Linked DNA regions of Homo sapiens. The protein of the gene in region 1 interacts with the protein of each later gene in a biochemical or structural test. Each region holds a gene or a part of one and is shown in the gene's direction. Other genes may lie near its edges.

What was found.
Region 2: the proteins of APBA1 (region 1) and DOCK4 interact in a test that uses a peptide from one of them, tested with the Homo sapiens proteins (one large-scale study listed by IntAct).
Region 3: the proteins of APBA1 (region 1) and KCNT2 interact in a test that uses a peptide from one of them, tested with the Homo sapiens proteins (one large-scale study listed by IntAct).
Region 4: the proteins of APBA1 (region 1) and GIPC2 interact in a test that uses a peptide from one of them, tested with the Homo sapiens proteins (one large-scale study listed by IntAct).
Region 5: the proteins of APBA1 (region 1) and ABCA1 interact in a test that uses a peptide from one of them, tested with the Homo sapiens proteins (one large-scale study listed by IntAct).
Region 6: the proteins of APBA1 (region 1) and ADGRA3 interact in a test that uses a peptide from one of them, tested with the Homo sapiens proteins (one large-scale study listed by IntAct).
Region 7: the proteins of APBA1 (region 1) and SLC15A2 interact in a test that uses a peptide from one of them, tested with the Homo sapiens proteins (one large-scale study listed by IntAct).

What each region holds. Positions count from the first base shown.
Region 1 is NC_000009.12:69,445,372-69,448,871, reverse strand, and holds part of APBA1 (amyloid-beta A4 precursor protein-binding family A member 1), read left to right. Parts: intron 1-3,500. UniProt on the Homo sapiens protein: Putative function in synaptic vesicle exocytosis by binding to Munc18-1, an essential component of the synaptic vesicle exocytotic machinery. May modulate processing of the amyloid-beta precursor protein (APP) and hence formation of APP-beta.
Region 2 is NC_000007.14:112,199,900-112,203,399, reverse strand, and holds part of DOCK4 (dedicator of cytokinesis protein 4), read left to right. Parts: intron 1-3,500. UniProt on the Homo sapiens protein: Functions as a guanine nucleotide exchange factor (GEF) that promotes the exchange of GDP to GTP, converting inactive GDP-bound small GTPases into their active GTP-bound form. Involved in regulation of adherens junction between cells.
Region 3 is NC_000001.11:196,230,941-196,234,440, reverse strand, and holds part of KCNT2 (potassium channel subfamily T member 2), read left to right. Parts: intron 1-3,500. UniProt on the Homo sapiens protein: Sodium-activated and chloride-activated potassium channel. Produces rapidly activating outward rectifier K(+) currents. Contributes to regulate neuronal excitability.
Region 4 is NC_000001.11:78,080,466-78,083,965, forward strand, and holds part of GIPC2 (PDZ domain-containing protein GIPC2), read left to right. Parts: intron 1-209; coding exon 210-395; intron 396-3,500.
Region 5 is NC_000009.12:104,925,356-104,929,309, reverse strand, and holds the start of ABCA1 (phospholipid-transporting ATPase ABCA1), read left to right. Parts: upstream 1-1,154; 5' UTR 1,155-1,375; intron 1,376-1,399; exon of another isoform or gene 1,400-2,521; intron 2,522-3,954. UniProt on the Homo sapiens protein: Catalyzes the translocation of specific phospholipids from the cytoplasmic to the extracellular/lumenal leaflet of membrane coupled to the hydrolysis of ATP.
Region 6 is NC_000004.12:22,411,567-22,415,066, reverse strand, and holds part of ADGRA3 (adhesion G protein-coupled receptor A3 precursor), read left to right. Parts: intron 1-1,252; coding exon 1,253-1,466; intron 1,467-1,676; coding exon 1,677-1,885; intron 1,886-3,500. UniProt on the Homo sapiens protein: Orphan receptor that may have a role in planar cell polarity pathway.
Region 7 is NC_000003.12:121,925,401-121,928,900, forward strand, and holds part of SLC15A2 (solute carrier family 15 member 2), read left to right. Parts: intron 1-2,357; coding exon 2,358-2,439; intron 2,440-3,020; coding exon 3,021-3,155; intron 3,156-3,500. UniProt on the Homo sapiens protein: Proton-coupled amino-acid transporter that transports oligopeptides of 2 to 4 amino acids with a preference for dipeptides. Transports neutral and anionic dipeptides with a proton to peptide stoichiometry of 2:1 or 3:1.

The sequences.
Region 1 (3,500 bases):
TTGCTGAATGCATGGCCAGTGTGACCAGGATGTTCCTCCTCCATGATGGCATCTGTAGACCCCAGTAGCTCTGCACCAAGTGCTGCGGTACTGTAGCTAGACTGAGATTCCACAGCGTTTTTTGGGGTCCTGTAGGGGTTTCCTGAAAGACTTAGCTGGAACATAGCTGTGTGCGTATGTGCATGTGTGAGAGAGAGGGAGAAGGAAGGGGATTAATTCGTGCAAATAGTCATTGTGAGCAAAAGAAAAATCACAAAGCCAGCCTCCTCAGCTAAGGGGGTGGGGGTGGGAGGTGAAGGTGAGTGTATAGGACACATGGATGGTGACTTTTTGTTTTTAATGAAATGGAGTAAATTCTAATTTCACATAAGATAATCACATCTGGAAAGAAATAGTCCTCTTTGGCCTCCTTTAATTTCTTTTTCTTATATCTTATACTTAAATAAATTCTACCTCTTGCTTAATACACGTTAAAGGTAAGATTAGAGAATCAACTTTGAACATGGATATTCATTCAGAAAGGTTTAATTGGGCCTCTGTGAGGCACTGAGCTGCGCTCTGAGGAAGCTGGCTTGCCAGTGTGCATGTGCAGGATAATTAGAGACGTGCAAGGGCTCTGCGGCCAACATAAAGGTGAGAGGCTACAAGTGATTAGATGGACAATTTTATGTGATTTTAAAGTTGACCTTGAAGGAATAAAACCTAGGTAGGTAGCAGAAAGGGAAGTGGCGTTTGGAAGTTTCTGCTTGAATTGATGGACAGGGGCCGGTGTTGAGTCAGGGAGAGATGGGGTCTGAGCCTGGCCCGGAACGGCTGGTCTGGTGTTGCTGTGATTGCATGGAGAGGCAAGCGGGGGGGTGGGGCTAGGGAGGCAGGACCACAAGTCGCTCCTGCCAGTGAGCAAGTTGCTTATTAAACACCTTGGGTGCATGCATGAGAACTGCTGAGGGGCTGTGGGACCCAGGGGCCCCGTGGACACAGTCCCTGCCCCCCAGGGAGCTTGGTCGGTTTGAGGAGAAGTGAAAGGACTTATGGCTCACAGTGCTCAGTGCTGTGTGTCTGTGCTCTGGATGCTCTGAGAATATGTGTGGACTGACTTGCTGAGCCTTCGGGGCAGCATTCTGTGGGCAGGTACTATTTTGTACCCATTGTACAAGCTAGGAAGCTGAGGCACAGCAAGATGATGTAATCGTCTGTGGTCATACAGCCTCCAATACAGAGTCATCCCAGGGAGGGTGTCAGGTGAAATGCTAGGCCCAAGGCCAGACCATGGGGCAGTACTTCTCAGCCAGGGGTGATCTTCATCCCCCAAAATGTATGGAGACTGTTTGGGTTGTCACGGAGGAGAAGGTGCTGCCAGCATCCAGTGGGTAGAGGCCAGGGATACTGTCAAACATCCTACAATGCACAGGACAGCCCCACAGCACAGAGTTATCCAGCCCCAAATGTAGGTAGTGCTGAGGTTGAGAAACTGCCTGAGCGGCATAGGAGTTCAGATGCAAGAGAGAGAAATCGATGAGAGAGGGAAGCTGGTTAGGGATGGTTTGTGGGGAGTTGGTCTGAGTCTAGAAGGGTTGGGGAGGAGGAGCGGGGATAGGGGGTTAAGTAAAGTATTGAGTAATATTTGTGTTCCCTCCAAATACATATTGAAACCCTAATCCCAATGTGATGTTATTTGGAGGTGGAGCCTTTAGGAAGTGATTAGCAGGAGGGTGGAGCCCTCATGGTTGGGATTAGTGCCCTTAAAAAAGGGACCCCAGCAAGCTCTCTTTTGGTATGTGAAGATGCTAGAAGTTGGCCATCTGCAACTCAGAAGGGGCTCTTGCCAGAACCTGACAGTGCTGGTACGCTGAGCTCAGACTTCCAGCCTCCAGAACTGTGAGGGATAAATGCCTGTTGTTTATAAGCCACCTAGTCTGTGGTACTTTGTCATGGCAGACTAAGAACAGACTCAGACAAGGGGAGGACTTAAGTAAAGGTGGGGATGGGGCCTGGGCAGGAACAAGCCGCGCTTCCTGAGGCCCTTAAGACTCCAGCTCATGGCCTGGAGTCACCTCCTTTCCTCCTCAGGACAGCCCACAAGGGGGACAGCAGATGCTAGGTGCACAGATGGGCCATCAGAGACTCTAAAGGCACAGGAGACTTGCCCAGGGCCCCCAGCTGGCCAGTGAGTCCCCACCCTCCTGCGAATCGCTCCTTCCTTATCTGCGTGGGGACCAGAGGAGGGAAGCAGTGAGGCTATGAGGGCAGCCTGACTCCCTCTGCAGCTGCCACAGCATCAAGGTGGAAGCAAAGCTTGCTGGAGTACAGACGGAGCTCTGTCTGCACAGTTTCCTAAGGGGAAATGGATTGTTTGAGGAGCTGAACTTTGATGTCTATAAATGTAATCTCTATAGAACCAGAAAATTAAAAGGCCGAGTGGTGATAAAAGAGATGTAACTGATGAAGATGAAGAGTAAGAAAAGAAAAGCAGTGCTTTCGTGGCCACCCATAGTGAAGAAGTACTTAGCAGGGCAGACCCCGATTAGAGCACAGCTGAACTTCCTCCCTGCCACAGTGCGCCGCTTGTTGAATGGGGAAATGTGATGGTCCGTCCGTGGACCACCCTGGCTGGTGGGAGGTGTAACCACTGATAACAGCCAGAATCACCAGTACCAAATACAGACTGACATCAGTGGGTCGTATCACCTTTTTAAAATTCTCTAGAAAACACACCCCTTTTTGCCTGCACCTGGACAGATGTGCACACTGCCCTACCCCCACCCCTCGGGCCACTGCAGAGCAGCATCTGGACCACTTCAAGGCTGTGTTCAAATTTGTTTCAGTGTATGTCCATGCTCTTTGCAGTGACTTTGACAAGCAACTCTCATCCTGATGAATCAGTGCTTCTCAAACTGATTGGAATCACCTGGGGATCTTGTTAGAATGCAGGTCTGATTCAGCAGGTATAGGGTGGAATTCTGCATTTTTGGCAGGCTTTGCGGCGGGGATGGCATCACCAGTCTGCAGGCTACACTTTCAGGAACAGGGATCCAAAGTGTGCATTCTGCATCTGGCCACTTCAATACTGGTTGACTATTGTCCCCCCAGGTTACAGGAAATCAATTTCTAGAGTAGAATTATAGGTATTGACTTGCCTTACTCTTCCTACCTTATTTTTTGGGTCATAATTAATTCCCAAGGCATAATTATTGGTGGGTGGAACATTTTACAGGCTGCCTCTTTCTGTGCCTTTGCCTCTGTGGTCCTGCCCTCTGGGTTTTTGCTCTGTTTTAGAATAGCGCACAGCTTCCCTTGCTTCCCCAGGAGCATCATGGTTCTGCTCTCCCGTTGCTATAGAGACCATTCTGGCTTCTCTTTTCTCTCTTCGCCCCTCTTCTCTGGGCTTCCCCTCCCACCAGATTTCTTAATTTGCTGTACCGTTCCACTGTTGTCATGGGGACCAAATGACCCTTTATTTAATTGGCACCTCCAATAAAATGGCAGCTCAGAAATCCAAG
Region 2 (3,500 bases), on another chromosome or scaffold:
TTTTCGTAACTGATGTATAGGCACCGTCCCATTTAATGAATGATTAAATTCATTAAAACAACGAAAAGTCAGTCATAAGTGTTCTGATTTTAGGAAAAGGTATAGTGATGAAGTTATAGTTCTGAGGAACAGGGAACCTTGTCTTTTAGAAATCATGTTAAGAGGCACAGTGATAGGCAATTTCACCTTAGGAGATTCTAGTTAGCTCTTGATTCTGGGCTAGACACTGCTGCCAGCTGTGTAACCTTAGGTAAATCACTTAGCCTTTCTGGGTCCCAGCGTCTGGGGCAAGTGTTAACTAAAGCCTTCCCTGGTACTAATTTTGTAGAGCTCTTCCAACTAACTGTGTTCTTTGGTTAGAAAAACATCTTCATTGTGTTGAGACTGCTATGACAGAGACACTTTTGTTGTGACATATCTCACTTGGTTTTTAAGTAAGATCAGAGGTAAGCAAACGCTACCTGGCAAGCTGCCAGAACTGAGGTGCTGGTTCCTCTCTTTCTCAATTTGTTTGATTCTCTCTGGCTAGTAGGAGCTCCATGGGCAGTGACTGAAGCATTTTGTTTGTTTTTTAAATGTATTTTCCTTGACAAATAATAATAATATATTTTTTAAGTTTTCATTTTTTTTTTTTTAATTTAGAGACAGGGTTTTGCTCTGTTGCCCAGGCTGGAGTGCAGTGGCTATTCATAGGCGCCATCATAGTGCACTATAGCCTGTAGCCTCAAGCTCCTGGTTGATCGCCTCAAGCAATACTCCCACCTCAGCCTCCTGAGTAACTGGGATTACTGACATGCACCTTCTCACCCAGCTGTATATATTTATGGTGTACAGTGTGATATTTTGATGTACGTTTACAGTTGGAGTGATTAATCAGGCTATTAACAAATTACACCTCATATAATTACCATTTTTGTGGTGTAAAAAACATTTAAAATCCATTCTAGCACTTTTGAAGTATACAATGCATTGTTATTTATTGTATCTCCATTCTGTGGATATCACCTCCCATCTGTTAGAATGGCTGTATAAAAACAATGAAAGGTAACAAGTATTGGTGAGAGTGCAGAGAAAAGGGAACGCTGTGCACATGTTAGTGGGAATGTAAATTAATACAGCTGTTATGTAAAACAGCATGGAGGACCTTCAATGAACTAAAAATAGAATTACCATATGATCCAACAATTCCACTGCTTGGTATATATTCACAGGAATTGAAATCAGTATGCTGAAGAAATATCTGCTATCCCATGTTCATTGAAGCAGTTCTCAAAATGTCTGAGATATGAAAGCAACCTAAGTGTCCATCATCAGATGAATGGGTAAAGAGAATGTAGTATCTATACACAATGGAATATTATATAGTCTTGAAAAAGGGGAAAATCCTGTCATTTTCAGTAATGTGGAGGGTATTATAGTAAATGAAGTAAGTGTAAGTCTGGCACAGAAAGATAAGTACTGCATGATCTTGCTTACATGTGCAATCTAAAGAAGTTTACTTCATAAATATAGAGATTAAAGTGATGGTTGCCAGAGTCTGGGGGAAGAGGGTGGTTGGGGAAAGTGGAGATGATGATCAAAGTGTACAAAGTTTTGGTGAGACAGGGGGAACATGCTTTAGTGATCTATCGCACAGAATGGTGACTAAAGCATTCTTGATCGCATACTCACCAATTTCCTCAGATTACCTCTACCTCCTGCATGTCCTCATCTGTTAGCACACCCCCCCATTCCTCCCCCCTCCCCACCCCGCCTTAAAGTGGTGGGAATTATTCATGGAGAAAGCTAAGACCTTTGCAGATTGTTTTTGCGTTCATTTGTCCAACAGGCTTTTATGCACAGATTCACAGATGAGTCATGGCATCTTCCTGAGCTGAAGGCTGCACCCCTCAAACCTAGCCAGATGTTTTACATGTGTGAGCTTAGTTAAGCTTGACAGGAGAACACGGGCTGGATTGATCGGTGCAGAAAATCCATGAACCTTATAAGAAACAAAACTCAGAACAAGCTGATCTGAAGTCACAGTGTCATTTAAAAAATAAATTGTGTGGTGCGAGTATCACTCAGTCATCACATAAATTCCTGTATTCTATTTTTCTTGAAGGAGTTTTTGAACTCATCTGGGTAGGAATCATGTTCCTTTTTAAAGCCCCTTCTATGTTGGTGGAAGAAGATGCACCTTCTCGTATTCATACAGGATAGTTAGGTGTCTTTCTCCTTAGAAAGATGCTTTAATCATAGCGTATGTGTGTGATAGAGCGTAATAAGGATGTGTTTCCTTTACTCTTAGTTTTTTGTAGTTTCTTAGCTAACAGTTTCTTAAAGTGTTTTCTATTAGTGGTCCTATGATGTATCTACATAGCATGTAAAGCTAAATAATAATGTTCTGCTTGGAATTGTTTGTGACATTTAGAGCCTGACACAGGATTCTAAACTTTAAGTGGGAATAGAAGAGAAATGATTTATACCTCCCAGTAAAATACCACCGAAGGGCCATACAGACAGTGGGATAGCAGCTTATGTTCTTGATCTGGCCTCCTATGGGAATGGTCTATAAAAATGTTCCCCTCTTTTGGTCATTCCCCTAAGTGACAGTTCTTCACAAGGCCCCTGAAGCCACATAGAGATGCTGCTCTTCCTCTATGATCTTGTTTTTTTTTGTTTTTTTTTTTTTATTTTAGAGGCTGTTATGGTAGCTAGTACGAGGGAGATTATACAAATTTCAAGAAATTTAGGATTTCCTATCTCTAGCTCTATTCTTTTCCAAAAGGAGACAACATTTTCTGAGTTATGTTTGATACAATATGTCTATGTTTCTATCACAGTGACTTCATGCTGTGAATATATACATCAGAGGAACATTAAACTCTAATGAAACCCTTCTAAAAGGCTGTAACCGTAACACAGTAATACAATGTTTTACTTAAAAAGTGAAATTATTTTATCTGAGTCTACCCTTTGAAGTTGAATGGTAATTTCTATTTAAGAGATGAGAAAACAGTTTCATAGAGTTTAAGTGACTTACTCTAGATTAGTAGCTTTTAATCTTGTTTGACTATTACCCATAAGAAATATAGTTAATTTCCTGACCTAGTATATATATAAATATCCCCCAGTACCACCCCACACACATATAATTAAAACAGCACTTGCTTATACTCTATGTAATGTTCTATTCTTTTTTGTTAAAAAAAATACTTGTCACTAAATTGACTTGTTAATGGGTCCTGACCCACAGTTTGAAAAACACTGCTTTAAATGCTACATTTGTGATACCAGAAGGACTGCAACTCACATCTTACTGGGTTTCTGTGAAGTTCCTTTCATGACATTGGCAAGGAGTTGATGGTGGTGGTGGTTATTGTCTTTGATAGTCAGATATGTGGGTTTATTTTAACAAAGAATTTAATTATCCTTTTTTCCTTCAGTCTAAGTCAAAGTCTGTCTTCTGTAGTATTTCTTATTAAAGATGGAACAAATATTTAAAGCCATCACATGCA
Region 3 (3,500 bases), on another chromosome or scaffold:
AGAAAATGAGACTTGATTATTGATTTGGGAATTGAAAAAGAAGTTTAACACAGCTTTAGGGTTTCAAACTGTGTGATTACAAAAATAAAAAAAAAATGTTGTTTCATCAAAACAAGTCAGAATGGGGAGACAATTTTCCAGGCAGGAAAGAGGGGCTGTTGGGTAGTAAAAAAAAAAGAGATGATATGTGGGTCCAGGTATATATGTATTTTTAATAAATGTTGACTTTCTAATTAATTAAGTTTATTGATATATAATAGTTGTGCATTTTATGAGGTACATGTGATATTTTGATACATGCATAAAATATGTAATGATCAATCAGGGTAATTGAGGTAGCCATTACCCCAAACATTTATAATTTCTTTGTGTTAGGAATATCCCAAATGTTCTTTTCCAGCTATTTTGAAATATACAATGAAGTCTTGTTAAGCATAGTTGCCCTACTGTGCTTTGAAGCACTGGAATTTATTTCTTCTGTGTAACTGTATTTTGGTTACTAATAAACCAGTTTCTCTCCATCTTCCCCTCCTCATCACCCTTCCCAGCCTCTGGTAACATTCTGCCTACTATCTCCATGAGATCAATTATTTTAGCTCACACATTTGAATGAAAACATGATATTTGTTTTTCTGTGGCTTATTTCTCTTAACACTGACTATGTTGTTTTTCTGTGGCTTATTTCATTTAACACTGACTATGTTGCTGCAAATGACAGAATTTCATCTTTTTTATGGATGAATGGTATTCTACTTTGCATATATACCACAAATTTTCTTCATCCATCCATTCAAATATGTTATTTAAAGTATAAAGAGGAAATGTCTAGAAAGCATTTAGATACACAGTATTGGAACTTTGAAGATAAGCTAGTTTTCTGTAGAAAAAATATTTTTTATCTTCCAGCTGAAAAAGGCTAAATAGGGAATGTTTTTTCCAAAAATATAAATACAGAAGAAACAGTAGAATAATTAGTGTTGTACTACTGACGAGTGTTTTGTTTTAGGGCAGAAACAGGAAGCATTTCAAAAACTTATTAGGAAAATAAAACAGCAGGAGTAAATCTGACCCCAAATAAGTGTGAAAAGATTCCTAAAATGCACCTAAGATAGAACTATCAAGTATAATATTGCTTTATTTTGCCATCTGATAATACTGGTTAGAATACAGGAGCATTGGGGAAACAGATGAATAACAATTTAAGCTAGTAGAATTCTTAAGTCACTGTCAAAAATTGTATCTGATGGTGATATTGAATTTATAAAGGACTTCAATTAGAGGAAAACATCTTATTTATGATGCACTTGGATTTTAATTACTCATCCTGGACCCTTCACATAGTATATTATGATAATAAAATAAAGCTGTTCTTTTTTCATGGCATCCACATTTATACATGTCTTTTTTCTTTTAAGTCCATAAGTATAGATAATTTTTATTAAATATCTAATCTACCCATATTAATTCCAGCCTTCTTATACCTTTTTTCAAATAAATATAATTGTGTTAATTATATAGAATTTAAAAAATTATGCTTACCTTATTTGTATTTTATAATAAATTATGTTTCTTAAGCTTAATACAATCATTTCCCATAATTATTTTTGACAGAATGTTCAAAGAAAATGTTGTCACCCTTTTGAGACTAAGAACATGTCATTTTGTCAAATATTTATGTTCTTGATTTCAAATGATGTTTAATCTTTTTACTTATGAATAAAATATGTATGTCACAATGTGGACAGGTAAAGTAGACATATTTTTAGAGAATTTTCTGTCTTTTAGATACTCTTATTTTTTATTAGTTTTAAGCTAAAACATCAACTTGACTGCTATTAAAAAAATAAAAAAGCTTTTCTTACACCATTGCAGTGATCTGTATTTGTGGCATTGAGATAATTAAATTTCAGTGGAACCAGAACAATGATAAATTATCATTTGAAAGATGCCTACCATGACATGTAATATATAAAAACACAGTTTAAGAAATTTGCTTTATTGGACTCATAGGTTTTGTAGTGACAATAATAGGAAAAGGAACTTTTGCTACTGCATCAATGAATGCAGAGAATAATGGATTATACTGTTATCTTTTATGTTTTTCTAAAAATTCACTTTCGGAAGTTTGTTTTAAATGAAGAAGCAACATTAATTTGATGCGAACAATAATAAATCACTAGATGATATGGTATTAAAAAGTGTAATGTGCACTATTAGTTTTCTTCATCAATCCACAATGCTATTGATATTTAAAGTAACTATAAAGCAGTGTGCATAGATGACAAAATCCAGTTAATAGGTCCAAGAACACTAGTCTCAACTTTTATTTGGTCAAAGAAAATAGACTCAGTGTTTTTGATTGCCTTTTCTCATTTTCATTAAGGAGTATATTTTGTGAATTTTTCCCTTCAGTCTTTAAGACAAAAGTGCAAACTTTATTAGCGTTCTCACTTTTTAATTAGTTTTCCTGTTCATTTTATATACTGCCTCTTAAAAATATTATAGAAGTATTAAATACTTCTTTCATTTGGACTTGGAACATGACTTTCTTAGAATGCTGTGTTGCATATATTTATTTTCTTCTCTCCTTTTCAAACCCTTAGTGGCTTCCTACTGCCTTTAAAACACAAATTGAAACTACTTATTCTGAAACTTAAGGTCATTCATTACCTGTTTCCTACCTTTGTTTTTGACTTTACCTACCATGATTTACTAGTTTTCTAAAGTCAAATCATTTCTAAGCACATCAGAAACATCCATCCTCTGTGGTCTCCATTGACAACATTTGGGATCACCTCCTGTTCCTTCCTCCTAAATCTTCTCTGAAGCCTGGAGAGGCAAGTTCAACCCAACCCCACAATAAAGCAGTTCCTAATTCTCTCTGTTGTTCTTTTTCACTTTGTATGATGTTTGGAATTTCTTTTTTTTTCTTCCATTATATCTGCTTCATAAATTTTACTTTAATCTTCTGCCGGACAGGAGTCATGTTTTGTGATTTTGTTTTAATTCTAAGGTGTTAGCACAGTTTCCTACAGGTGCTCAAGAAGCAGTCACTAAAGATACTCAGGCATACCTCAGAGATTTTGCAGGATTGGTTCCAGACTACCACAATAGAGTGAATATTGCAATCAAGCCAGTCACTTGAATTTTTTGGTTTCCCGGTGCATACAAAATTTATGTTTGCATTATACTTTAGTCTACTAAGTGTGCAAAAGCAAAGCATTATGTCTAAAAATTTACTTAATTAAAAAACAGTTTATTGCTAAAAAAAAAATGCTAGCAGTCATCTGAGCCTTCAGGGAGTCATAATCTTTTTTTGCCGGTAGAGAGTCTTGCCTCAATGTTGATGGCTGCTGACAGATTGGGGTAGTGGTTACTGAAGGTTGGAGGGGTGTGGCAATTTCTTAAAATCAGACAACAATGAAGTAGTATGCTGCATTGATTGACTCTTTCTTTCATGCAATATTTATCTGTAGCATGTAATACCCTTTGATAGCATT
Region 4 (3,500 bases), on another chromosome or scaffold:
CTACAGGAAACCCTCAATACATGTTACCTAATGCTACTGTCTGAAAATGTGTCCCAGAATCTCTCTAGCCAACATAAAAACACATTTTATGATGTAACTCTTTACATCATAAATTGAGGAGTATTTCAGTCAATAAATGTTTATAAATAAATTAACGGTCAGATGTATTCCAAGTGGAAATGGACCTGACATTTTATTTTTCTTTGCAGATCTTATATTGCACTTTAAACACACCTAAAATTGACATGGAAAGACTCTTAGGAGGACAACTAGGACTAGAAGATTTCATATTTGCCCATGTGAAAGGAATCGAAAAAGAAGTGAATGTGTATAAATCTGAGGATTCACTTGGTCTCACCATTACAGATAATGGTGTTGGCTATGCTTTTATAAAGGTAAGTTTTAAAAAATAACAGTGTAACCTAATTGAGGATAACATTTAAGAAAATCTACCAGGCCAAAGAAAGTTAGAAATGATCTTCAGAGTGAGAGCCCGCTCAGCAAGGATGCATGAATTGGTAATGTTTCACTTTCATTTTAAAAATGTTCAGATGTCAGTTTGTGTTTACTATTTTCTTAATTTCTTCCCTTTAGTTTAAACTTCCCCTAGAATTTAGAACTAACTGAAAGGAAAGTCTAACCCTGGTGCCTACTCATTATCCATATAAGCTTTTCCATGTCTGTAGGTTTTAACATCTGATGAATTTCTGGCTTATTTCCATTGAATTAGTGTTATTTTCCAACTGTTCCTAGTTTTGACTGCCTTATTTACTTCTTTAAAAATGCCCTTCAAAATTTTAGGAAGTATATAAAGTTGGATCTCTGTATCTGTAGGTTCTGTATTAGTGGATTCAACCAACCACAGATTAAAGGTAGTTGAAAAAATGGCATCTGTACTGAACATGTATGGCCTTTTTACTTGTCATTATTTCCTAAACAATACAGTACAACTGCTTATGTAGCATTGCCATTGTGTTAGGTATTATAATCTAGAGATGATTTAAAGTATATAGAAGGATGTGGATAGGTTATATGCAAATACTACACCATTTTATACCAGGGACTTGAACATCAGTGGAATTTTAGTATTGATGGTGTGTCCTGGAACCAATCCCCCATGGATACCCAGGGCCAACTGTAATTCCTTTATTCAAATACAAAGAGAGCGATATAGAGCTTCAAAGGCAAGATAAAAGTTTGAAATGGTGTGAAACTAAGAACTGAGGAGAAAGGTAGTCTCATCTCTTAAAAATAACAACTCTATTATTGTAATAGTTATAATAGTAACAGACTTATATTGAATGCATGTACTAGGCACTTTGCATACAATTTCTCACTTAATTCTCACAATTCTATTTGGTTGGTATTATGTTTTTTCTTTGTATTTATTTTTTTGTTGCAGTATAAGACATTTTTAATGTACAGCTTAATGAATGTTTACATACTTATCCCTGTTTAACCATCACCCAGATCAGGATAAATTGCATTTCTGCCACTCAGAAGGCTCATTTGTGCCCCTTCCCAGTCAATAATCTTTCCCCGCAAAGTAGCCATTATTCTGGCATCTATTGCCATGAACTTCATATAATCATATATTATATACTCCACTATTTTCGGCTTCTTTTGCTCAAAAAGATGCCTATGAGATCCATGGATAGGTACTATTTCCAACCTTATTTTACAGATGTGGAAACAGGCTCAGGAAGGTTAAGTAGCTTGCCCAAAGTTATACAGCTGGACACATTCAGGATTTGGATCTATGAGGTCTGACTTCAGAGCTGGCACTTCTATTCACTCGATTAAGAATTAATGATAGATTTCATGCAACAGGGAATATTTTGTGCCTTTATTTTGTCCAAATCTTGATTTGCTGATGCATTGTCACCATTAAATAATCTTAGGGAAGTTATCTTCTTAACTGTAAATGGGACTTTCGCTACCCACTTGATAGAATGGCTATTTTTAGCTCTGCAAAAGATATGACTGTGCTGAAGGTTGAGTGAGTGACCAAATGGAAAATCTGTGACTGGGAAAGTCATATGGGATTATCCAAGGGAAGCTCAGGACATGAGGCACAGGCAGCAGAGAAGGGCTTGGAAGTTTCACAAACGTGTGTGGATTTTTAAAATCTTAGCCTCTGACATTCAGAGCTTGTCTTTCTATTTTTTAAAAAATGCTTTGTCAAACATGTGCCTGACTCAGAGTACTAGTCACTAGCCCTGTGGAGATATAGGGCATGTTAGCAAAGGAGAAAGCAAGGCATAATCTAAACTGCCAACATATAGTTCAACTTAGAAGAGAGATGCACATTATACTGTATACATGGTTGATGAAATTTTTTAAAAATTGGGAGAGGATAATTTCAAACTTACATAAAGATTGCAATAATAATACAAAGAACTCCCATAAATCATTTATCCAAATCTCCAATTTTTACCATTTGCCATGTTTGAGTTTTTTGTTCTGTCTCATACACACACATATATATATATATACTCTTTACCCCTTAGTACTTCAGAGTGTAATTACTAAGAACAAGGATATTCTCTTACATATAACTACAGTACAATTATGAAATTCATACAGTCTAATATTGATATAATACTTTTAAACTAATCTATAGTTCACATTGTAGTCTTATCAGCGTCCTAATTGTGTTCATTATTTTCCCCTCATACAGGTCCAATTTAGGATCCTGTATTTCATTTATGTCTTTTTAGTCTTCTTTATAATCTAGAATAGTTGTCATGTCTTTTTAGTCTTCCTTAATCTAGAATAGTTCCTCAGCCTTTTATAGGATGTCCCTGAATTTGGGTTTTTCTGATGTTTCCTCATGTTGATAAATAGATTGTGCATTTTTGGTAGGAAAATTACATAAGTGATGCTGTGTCCTTCTCAGTGCACCACATCAGAAGGTACATGAAACTGGTTTGTCTCATTGTTTGTGAGATTAACTTTTGTCACTTGTCTGAGGTAGTGTCCACTAGTCTTTTTCACTACAAAATTATTTTCCTTTGTGATACGTAATTGTGGAGAGATGCTTTGATATCATGAAAATACCCTGTTTTCTTACTTGCATGGCACAAATTTAGTATCTGTTGATGAGTCTTACCTGAATTAATTTTTCCTATAATGGTTGAAAAAATGATGATTTTTCTAATTCCATCACTCCTTATATGTTTCTCTGAAAGCATTTTATGGTAGGGAAAAAGCTGCCCTTATTTATTGTCAACATGGGTACATGACTTCGTGTTTTACTGAATGGTTTATAGTCTGTTACTATCAATTATATTGATGCTCAAATTTCCTGAGACTTGGCCTGCAGGAACCCCTGTAAGTGGGCCCCCATGTCCTTTTGACATGGCTCCTATCATTTTATTGAGTAGGTTCTTACTTTCTAGAACACAACAAGATATTCTAGACCCATCTTGTATCTCCTTTTCCCCTGACCTAGAATCAACTATTTCTCTCAGAAGCTCTGATTTTTACTAGAGATTGAT
Region 5 (3,954 bases), about 35 Mb from region 1:
GTCCTGAGTCTTCTATGAATCTGCCCTTCAGGGCAGATTCATATTTAGACTCTTCACAGTTTGACCTGAGTTTTGGCCAGAATAAGGTGACATTTAGTTTGTTGGCTTGATGGATGACTTAAATATTTAGACATATGGTGTGTAGGCCTGCATTCCTACTCTTGCCTTTTTTTTTGCCCCTCCAGTGTTTTGGGTAGTTTTGCTCCCCTACAGCCAAAGGCAAACAGATAAGTTGGAGGTCTGGAGTGGCTACATAATTTTACACGACTGCAATTCTCTGGCTGCACTTCACAAATGTATACAAACTAAATACAAGTCCTGTGTTTTTATCACAGGGAGGCTGATCAATATAATGAAATTAAAAGGGGGCTGGTCCATATTGTTCTGTGTTTTTGTTTGTTTGTTTCTTTTTTTGTTTTTGTGGCCTCCTTCCTCTCAATTTATGAAGAGAAGCAGTAAGATGTTCCTCTCGGGTCCTCTGAGGGACCTGGGGAGCTCAGGCTGGGAATCTCCAAGGCAGTAGGTCGCCTATCAAAAATCAAAGTCCAGGTTTGTGGGGGGAAAACAAAAGCAGCCCATTACCCAGAGGACTGTCCGCCTTCCCCTCACCCCAGCCTAGGCCTTTGAAAGGAAACAAAAGACAAGACAAAATGATTGGCGTCCTGAGGGAGATTCAGCCTAGAGCTCTCTCTCCCCCAATCCCTCCCTCCGGCTGAGGAAACTAACAAAGGAAAAAAAAATTGCGGAAAGCAGGATTTAGAGGAAGCAAATTCCACTGGTGCCCTTGGCTGCCGGGAACGTGGACTAGAGAGTCTGCGGCGCAGCCCCGAGCCCAGCGCTTCCCGCGCGTCTTAGGCCGGCGGGCCCGGGCGGGGGAAGGGGACGCAGACCGCGGACCCTAAGACACCTGCTGTACCCTCCACCCCCACCCCACCCACCTCCCCCCAACTCCCTAGATGTGTCGTGGGCGGCTGAACGTCGCCCGTTTAAGGGGCGGGCCCCGGCTCCACGTGCTTTCTGCTGAGTGACTGAACTACATAAACAGAGGCCGGGAACGGGGCGGGGAGGAGGGAGAGCACAGGCTTTGACCGATAGTAACCTCTGCGCTCGGTGCAGCCGAATCTATAAAAGGAACTAGTCCCGGCAAAAACCCCGTAATTGCGAGCGAGAGTGAGTGGGGCCGGGACCCGCAGAGCCGAGCCGACCCTTCTCTCCCGGGCTGCGGCAGGGCAGGGCGGGGAGCTCCGCGCACCAACAGAGCCGGTTCTCAGGGCGCTTTGCTCCTTGTTTTTTCCCCGGTTCTGTTTTCTCCCCTTCTCCGGAAGGCTTGTCAAGGGGTAGGAGAAAGAGACGCAAACACAAAAGTGGAAAACAGGTAAGAGGCTCTCCAGTGACTTACTTGGGCGTTATTGTTTTGTTTCGAGGCCAAGGAGGCTTCGGGAAGTGCTCGGTTTCGGGGACTTTGATCCGGAGCCCCACATCCCCACCACTTGCAACTCAGATGGGACCGGAGGCGGTGTTAAATGGGGAGACGATGTCCTAGTACGAGCTCTGGTGACCCCAGGACTCTGCGCTGCTGCGCTTGGGGCTTGCCCGACGGTGGAGACCGGGGAGCATCTCTGGGCGTGGAGACCCGGGCGCAGTACCCCGGGCTCAGAGGGGTCGGGGGTTCCCGGGCGTGCTGAGGGCGCTGCTGCCGGGTGGGGAGAGCTGCAGGTCCGGCACCGAGCGCTGCTTTGTTCGGAGGGCCCTGAGCTGGCTAGAAACCCTTCTGGTTGCAGGTCGGCCAGTACCTACGGAGACAAATGCCAGCACTGAGTCTTCACTCGGTTCTTAAGAAGCTGGTCTGTTCTGACCTGGGAATTGGCTATATGCTCCCCGGGACTGGAGCGGCACAGTCCCGGACTGTGAATCCGGGAACTCGAGTTGGAGGTGTCCCAAACGGTCCGTGGTGCTATTGCTCACTAGAGGCCTTGGGTCTTTGTTTGACCTGAGGGGTAGGGAGGTCCTGCCTACAGTCTCCGTGCGCTCAGCTGAGCTGGTGTCCCTGGCGCAGAGCGCGGACGAGTTTTGTTTCCTTTTCTTTTTCTTTTTTTTCTTTCCTTTAAGTCTCGGTCTGTCGCCCAGGCTGGAGTGCAATGGAACGATCTCCGCTCACTGCAACCTCCGCCTCCCGGGTTCAAGCGATTCTCCTGCCTCAGCCTCCTGAGTAGCTGGGATTACAGGCGCGTCACCACATCCAGCTAATTTTTGTATTTTTAGTAGAGACGGGGTTTCAACTTGTTGGCCAGGCTGGTCTCGAACCCTCGACCTCAGGTGATCCACCGGCCTCGGCCTCCCCAAGTGCTGGGATTATAGGCGTGAGCCACCGCGCGCGGCCGAGTTTTGTTTCTTTTAAAAACAAGACTTAGGAGAGCCTGCGGAGACCCGGAGGTGGGGTGCCCAATCCTCCCTCTCCCACGTTCCCTGCAGCCCCATCTTCCAGACCGTTGCTGCTGGTCTCTCGGGGCAGCTTCTGCCTGGGCGCAGATGGGGAAGCTGGGCCGAGGTGGTGCCGTGGAATGACCGGGAGTAACCCCGGCGGGCGGCGCAGAACTCGGAGCTCCGCCGCGGGGCTGGGCTGGGCTCTGCCGTGAGGGTGGGGGTGCTGGGCGCGCGGGCTGCGGTGGCCCCCGGAGACTGGCCCGCAGCGCCTCCTGGCCGGAGGACCTAGGAATCGGCCGGCTCTACTAGGTGTCTTTGCTCGCGGTTCCGACTGTGAATCCGGTGAAGACCGGTGGTTGCAGACGGGGAGGAACTATGAGGTTGAGGCGAAAGCCCGTTTTGTTTTTTTTTTTTTGTTTTTTTGGTTTTTTTTTTTGTTAGCGTGTTTGCCAACTCCCAGGCCATTGGTAAAGCAGGAAGGTTCTTGGGGCGGCGGACGGTGCCAGGGTTATGTGTAGGTGCCTCTTTAGGTATATCTTTTATCAAAAAGAAGCAAAGAAATAAGATTAAAAATAAACAAAGAAAAAAGTTGTCTGGCACTGGCAGTAATTGGCCTGCCTTTGCAGCACTGATACCATTAGCTTTTAAAATCCGACTTTTCATTGACACTTCAAGAAGAGAATGGGTAGTATATACACATTCATCTCATAGTGGACAAATTTCATATTTAAAAAAACCTTCTGGGTACTGAAATCAGCAAGTCACTTGCCCTCCATGGCCGAATCCCTGCTTCCCACGAAGAGAACCTCACAAAAATTTCCCCCAAGTTAAAGAGTGGAATTTTCTTGATTTTTTTTTCTTTTTTTTTTAACGGCCGTAGTTTAGAACCCAGACTTAAATTATGATCTTCTTTTCAAACAAAACTTAAAGTCCTTAAGTTTTCATCTCCCCTTTTATTTCAACCTATTCTTCTCATACCTACCACAAAAATAATGGAGGCTTTCTGTTGAGAAACTTTCCGTTTCTGTTGAGAGTATCATTCTCTTGAGAAACTTTCTCCTAAATCAGAGAAAGTATGGAAGCATGGAAAGTATTCCTGAGTAGAACCTCTACAGATATTACAATATTTTTCAAATACAAAGTTTCCATTGTCAGCCTGTTTCCCAAGTGCTTCCACAAACCATTAAATAATTCCACAAACCATTAAAATAATTAATGCTAGGGAATTTTAGGAAAACATTGGTTTACAATCAGAAGGACCGGGGAAGTGGGTCTTCAGCCTTCACGATGACTACAAGCCATTTAAGGGACTAGAATTGCTACTGTTGTCAGAGCAATTTAGGAGTCTGTATTTGAGCACCCGCATAGTGTTCCAGAATGACATATCTGACTGTAACCTGGACACGTGTGATATGTTGTCTCCCCTGCAGATGAGCATTTGAAATCTCAACCCTCGTATTTCTACGAGTGCAGGCCTATAATGGACCCTGGGCACATTTTTTTTTTTTTTGAGATGCAGTCTCGCTCTGT
Region 6 (3,500 bases), on another chromosome or scaffold:
TATGACTAATGTGTGCAGAGTGTTGTGTGAGTCCAGAAGAGGAAGCAGCTAATCTGAAGATGCAATATACTGAGGAGATGCAATTAACTGTCCAAAAAAGCCCTGTTTCAAGGACTCTGTATAAAGTCTTCCCCCTGGCTGCCAACGTTTTTCATTCTAATCCACTTTCCGTTACACCAATTCAAAAGTTTGTGAGATGAAAGAATAGTGGAGCATTTCAGGTAGAGATGCTGGTCTGTGCAGTGAGCATGGTGGCATAAAAAGAATATAGGAGAACTTAAATTGATAACTCAGTGTAGCTGTGTTTTAGGTTGTGCTATAGGAGCATTCAGGGGATACATCTGAGCAATAGATTTTCATCAAATTATATGGTGAACTTAGGATTTGGGCTTAGTATTAAACATTGCAAAACCAAGGTGTTATTTAAACTGGAATAACATGATTCGATTTGTTTCTTAAGGGGAAATTCCGGTGAATATGGAATTAGAAGAAGAGAGGTTAGAAGCCAAGAAAAAGATTGTACAATAAATTCTTCAACTATGGAATGTTTTTAGATGGTTAATTGTTCACTTCTTTGGTATATATATATTTTTTACTGAATGCTGAATAATTTGTTATTTAAAAATCCTCAATAAAGAAATCTGAAAAAATTCAGTGATCAGTCAGCATTTTCAGTTGTTCCTATGTGTTATTATTTTTTTTTTCTAAATGTGTTTCCTAGTCTCAAGGAAATTTCTGCTAAGTGTACTGAATCTAAACCTCTATTATGTTTGTATAATTTCATTCTTTTGTTGTGTGGAGGTTTGAATTCATCATAAATCACCTTAAAGTTCCATAAGCCCAAATTAATTATACTCATATTTATGATATGCTACATTTGTGCTTCTTTATCATATTTTATCATTGTAAAATTGATACAGCCTGATCATTGAGATCCTTGATCTGTTTAATGCTATCTACTTCAACATATAATATCATGGGAAAATTAACTTTGTTAATTTGAAACACTTTTCTTGTTTACTTATTTAACTCTTTAAAGTTTGCATTTCTGTTTTATACTTCTTTTAATCTATGTTATGTGGTGTTGACATTTCGCTTGACTGATGATTTTTTTAACTGTTAAATTTTGTATATCCAATTTAAAAAATGAAGTCAACCTAATTATACCACTTTTGTAACTATCTGACATATTTTTTTCTGGTTTCTATGTACTAATGTAGTGAGCTTTTTTTATGTATATATATTTTTTCAGAATACTATTGTGGAGGCTTCTATTCAGCTTCCTCCTTCCCTTTTCTCACCAAAGCAAAAAAGAGAACTCAGACCAACTGATGACTCTCTTTACAAGCTTCAACTCATTGCATTCCGCAATGGAAAGCTTTTTCCAGCCACTGGAAATTCAACAAATTTGGCTGATGATGGAAAACGACGTACTGTGGTTACCCCTGTGATTCTCACCAAAATAGGTTTGTATGTGGCATATGTTATCCTGTAGTCAGTGGACAATAAGGCCTTGTAGTTGACTGTTCCTAAAAATGCTTATTTTAGTGTTTTCTCGTTTTAATGAGTCACTAGTGAAGAAAGATCTTGCAGAGTACCCATTACTGTAGAAGTTGACATTTATAATTGGTTATGAAGTTTGTTTCAGAAATATTTTTATTTCCCATTTTCTCCAGATGGTGTGAATGTAGATACCCACCACATCCCTGTTAATGTGACACTGCGTCGAATTGCACATGGAGCAGATGCTGTTGCAGCCCGGTGGGATTTCGATTTGCTGAACGGACAAGGAGGCTGGAAGTCAGATGGGTGCCATATACTCTATTCAGATGAAAATATCACTACGATTCAGTGCTACTCCCTTAGTAACTATGCAGTTTTAATGGTATGGCAGTTGTTAACTTTATGCATAAACACTATTCTACATTTTTGCTATGCATAATTAAGCTCAAATGAAGTGTTTTTTTGTTTTTTGTTTTTTTTTTTTTTTTACTTTTAACATAATTTGCTCCCTTTGATTATATGAGATGATATGTGTTCTAATTTTGATTTTAAAGGGAAATTAAGTTACTACCAAGTGAAATGTATGGGATTGAGTTTGGTATATAGGAATTTTAAATCAACTTTATAAGTCAATCAGTTCAGTTAGTCTTTGACCTTAAAACTTGGAGAGACTGTTGATGCAGATTCCCTCTGCCCAGAAAGAGTGATTTCATTTGCCGAAGGATACACAGTGAGTAGTGAAAGAACATTTTCCTACTTTGCAATCTAGCGCTGTTTCCCACTACATGTCGTAATTGTTAGACTCTATTTAAATTTAGAATTAATCATGATAATTTCATTTTTGTCATTGCAAGTGACAGTATTGACACAAAGAATGTCTTTTCAGTTTTAATGCCAGTCTAGTGTTGTTTTCTGTTATTTGCCGTTGTTAACACTAATTACAGGTTGAGTCTTATCTCTTATCTGAGATGCTTGGGACTAAAAATGTTTTGGATTTTGGATTTTTTCAGATTTTGGAATATTTGCATTATCACTTACCAGTTCATCATTCCTAATCCAAAAATCTGAAATCCTCCAAGGAGCATTTTCTTTGAAAAGTTTTAGATTTTGGAGCATTTTGGATTTAGGATTCTTGGGTTAGGGATACTCAACCTGTAATTTTTGGGGGGTAAAATAACAGTTATTAATGTACAGGAGCAAGTGTTTTTATTAATGAGGTCTTTAAGTGAATCTGACGTCTGAGCAGATAATTATGAAATAAACCATGCTAGTTCTTATTTTATATTGTAATTATTATAAATACTGACATCAAGGAGTATATTTAGAGTACGGTGGAAGGAATTACTGACGAGTGTGAAAGACATTTCCCAGAAATGGTTTGAGGTTACTCTGGGTGTGAGGAACTTCTATGTTATTTCTGATTCCAGCTGTAAATCTGTTTTCTAGAAAATGTTTTATCAAAGTGCTAAATACCTTGAAACATGATATATTTTACATTTCATGAATTTTTCTTTTCTTAAAAAAATAGCATTTAGCACTAGAAATGATCTTGAAGTAAACCTGAATTATAAATAATTTTCTTTGACTCTTGTATGTTTTTTTTTGTTGTTGTTGTTGTTTCAATTCAACTTATACCTTACCTGGTACACAGGTCAAGCAAGCAGAAAGGTGAATAGATTATTTATCAGAGTAAAGGGATTATCTTTTCATTGACATAATTGAGCATTTTATACAAGTGCAAGCAACATATTTAAACATGTATGTTTATAGACTCGGCTATATTTGTATATTTGTATATATAAAGGACCTTTATTCAATTGGGATTAACTTTAGTGTTGACAGTTTATGATTCTGATTCTCTTTGTAAATGGAAGATGTCTTGATTTCTGTAAGCATGAGTCTGGTTTCTATAAGTTCACATTTTATTATTGTGTAGTCAACTTATATTTATTTTTTGTTTTTTTGAGACAGAGTCTCACTCAGGTTGCCCAGGCTGG
Region 7 (3,500 bases), on another chromosome or scaffold:
TCTCCTGTTGTCCCTACAAAACAAATGGGGAACCTAGTAGGACTGGGGACTGAATTATTCCCAATTACTGCCTGAAATTTTTTCTAAATAGAAGGACTAGTCTTTTTTAGAGTTTGGCAAAAGAAAGTTTCAAGCCTTCTTTCATTCTTGATTTAATAGCAATTTCATTGTGATGACCACTTTACCAGATGAAAATGGCCCTTTGTCATTTGTTCATTGAGCAAATGTTGGGAAGTTTAGGACCAAGTGTCATGAAAATATAAATCAAGCAAAAAAAAAAACAACATTTCCCTCAAACAGTTTATTACTTAGTAAAGGGGCTAGACTATATATATATATATATATATATATATATATATATATATATATATATATATATATAAAATACAACTACTACACAGGTAAAATAAGTGTCCTAAGAAGGGAAGATCAAGTGCCAAGGAGAGGTAGAAAAGAAAAAGTCCCTCCCCTGCCAAAGCCAACAGATTTCTGCAGAGGAATGTGAGGTAAAGCATGTACAGCACTTGGCATATGGCATTTGTTCAATAAACCTGATTGTATTGCCATTATTTTTGGTGTTATGACATAGCGAATAGAAAAACCATCATAAGCAAAGATGGAGGTGGGTAAATGTGGTGTATCACAGAGAAGAGCAGTTCAATGTGACTCAAGAACAAGAAGAAAGAAGAATGTATGAAGGGGAGTTCTAGGAAATCCCTTGAAAAGTAATTGGTCATGGAAACATGGATTTAAAAAAGGAAAGTAATTGGGATCAAATCAGGAAAAGTCTTTGATGCAGTTTGAATATTTGTACCCACTCAAATCTCATGTTGAAATGTAATCCCCAATGTTGGATGTTGGAGGTGGGGTCTGGTGGGAGGTAGTCGGATCATGGGGATGAATTCCTCATAAATGGTTTAGTGCTATCCCGTTGGTGCTGTCCTTATGATAGTGAGTTCTAGTGGGATCTGACCATTTAAAAGCATGTAGTATCTCCCTACCCTTCACTTGCTCCTGCTTTCACCATGTGACATGTCTGTTTCTCCAGAGGGTACAAGCCATAAACCTTGGTGGCTTCTACATGGTGTTAAGCCTGCAGGCATACAGAGTGCAAGAATGAAGAATGCTTGGCACCCTTCACCTAGATTTCAGAGGCTGTATGAGAAAGTGTGGGTGTTCATGCAGAAACCGGCTGCAGGGGTGGAGCCCCCAGAGAGTACCTCTACTAGGGCAGTGTGGAGGTAAAATGTGGGGTTGGAGCTCCCACACAGAGTCCCCACAAGGACACTGCCTAGTGCAGCTGTGAGAAGGGGGCCACCATCCTCCAGACCCCAGAATGATAGACCCACTGGCAGCTTGCACCCTGGGCCTGGAAAACCACGGGCACTCAACAACCTGTGAGAGCAGCCACAGGGGCTGAACTCTGCAAAGCCACAAGGGTGGAGCTATCCAAGTCCTTGGGAGCCCACCCCTTGTATTGGTGTGCCCTGAATGTGGGACATGGAGTCAAAGGAGATTATTCTGGAACTTTAAGATTTAATAACTGCCCTGCTGTGTTTCAGACTTGCCTGGGGCCTGTAGCCCATTTGTTTTGGCCAGTTTCTCCCTTTTGGAATGGGAATGTTTACCCAGTATCTATACCCCCATTTTATTTGGGGAGTCAATAAGTTGTTTTGATTTTATAGGCTCATGGGTGGAAGGGACTTGCCTTATTTCAAATGAGACTTTGGACTTGGAACTTTTGATTGAGTTTGTGCTGGAATGAGTTAAAATTTGGGGAACTATTGGGAAGATATAATTGTATTTTGCAATGTGAGAAGGACATGAGATTTTTGGGGGGCTAGAGATGGAATGATATGGTTTGAATATTTGTCCCTGCCAAAATCTCATGTTGAAATGTAATTCCCAGTGATAAAGGTGGGGCCTGGTGGGACATGACTGGATCATGGGAGTGAATTCTCATGAAGGGTTTAGCACCATTCTGTGGTGCTATCTTCATGATAGTGAATGAGTTCTCACAAGATCTGGTCATTTAAAAGTGTGTGGCACCTCCCATCTCCTCGCTTGCTTCTGCTTTCACCATGTGACATGCCTATTCCACCTTTGGCTTCTCCCATGATTGAAAGCTCCTCGATGCTTCACCAGAAGCTGGAAGATGCCAGCACTGTGCTTCCTGTAAAGCTACAGAACCATAAGCCAATTAAACTTCTTTTCTTTATAAATTACCCAGTCTCAGGTATTTCTTTACAGCAATGCAAGAACAGTCTAATGCAGTCTTTAATAATAGGCTACAGAGTTTGGATTTCATCCTTTAGAGTCTAAAGTTTAGATATAATTGTTTCTCCTTTCCACCACAGATCACTTAGGAAAATGGCTGTTGGTATGATCCTAGCATGCCTGGCATTTGCAGTTGCGGCAGCTGTAGAGATAAAAATAAATGTGAGTTCAGTAATTCTTAAGCTCTATGAGGGCAGGATCATATCTTTCTTATTTGCTCTTTTGACTTGTTCAGTCATGATTCCCTGGGACCTAGCACAGTACCTGTTTTATAAGAGGTGCATCATAAGTATTTGTGATAAATAAGTAGATACAGGGGTAAAACAGCAATGCAAAATGAGGCCCACCTCCCACCTGAGTGACTCAGAATGTATTTTCAGGGAATTCTCAAACACTAATATCCAAGAGAGCCCTCTCCTTAGGGAACACAGGCTTATGTGATGCCTTTCTACATACTCAAGTAAAAACCTTTTGGCAGATTGAATAGCCACTATTACGGATGAGGCCACAGCTGAGTCAAAAAGCATCGAGTTTGTAAGCTGGCATTGGTACTTGCTACAATGAGCTGATGTTTCCCTCTCCAAGCTGCCTTTAGAGTTTTCTAAGCCAAATATTTTTCAGAGGGAGAAAACTATGTCTACTTGGCTAGTGGACTAGGCTGTCAGAAACAACTGAGATATGTGTTGCCATTGTATCTGAAGGATTATTTGTTGGTGATTCTGACATGTGTTCTTTGCTCTAAGGAAATGGCCCCAGCCCAGCCAGGTCCCCAGGAGGTTTTCCTACAAGTCTTGAATCTGGCAGATGATGAGGTGAAGGTGACAGTGGTGGGAAATGAAAACAATTCTCTGTTGATAGAGTCCATCAAATCCTTTCAGGTGAGGTGTGTACCTGAATGAATTAGAAACTCTGTATGCTATATTGATCTTGATTTTTCCTTAACATTAATTGTATCATAAGCATCTTCCCATGTCTTTAGATAATCTTTGAGCACATGATTTTAATGGGCATATAATATTCCATTCTATAGATATACCATAGTTTATTTAGACATTTCCACATAGGTATTCCGTTTTTATTATTATACATAATCCTACAATGAACATTCTTATTCATAAATATTTATGCATGGCTCTGATTATTTCTTAGGGTAAATTCCAAGAAATAAAATGGCTAGGTTAAAGAAAGGAATTACTAGGTTGAAAGTGTCTGATGAGGTCACC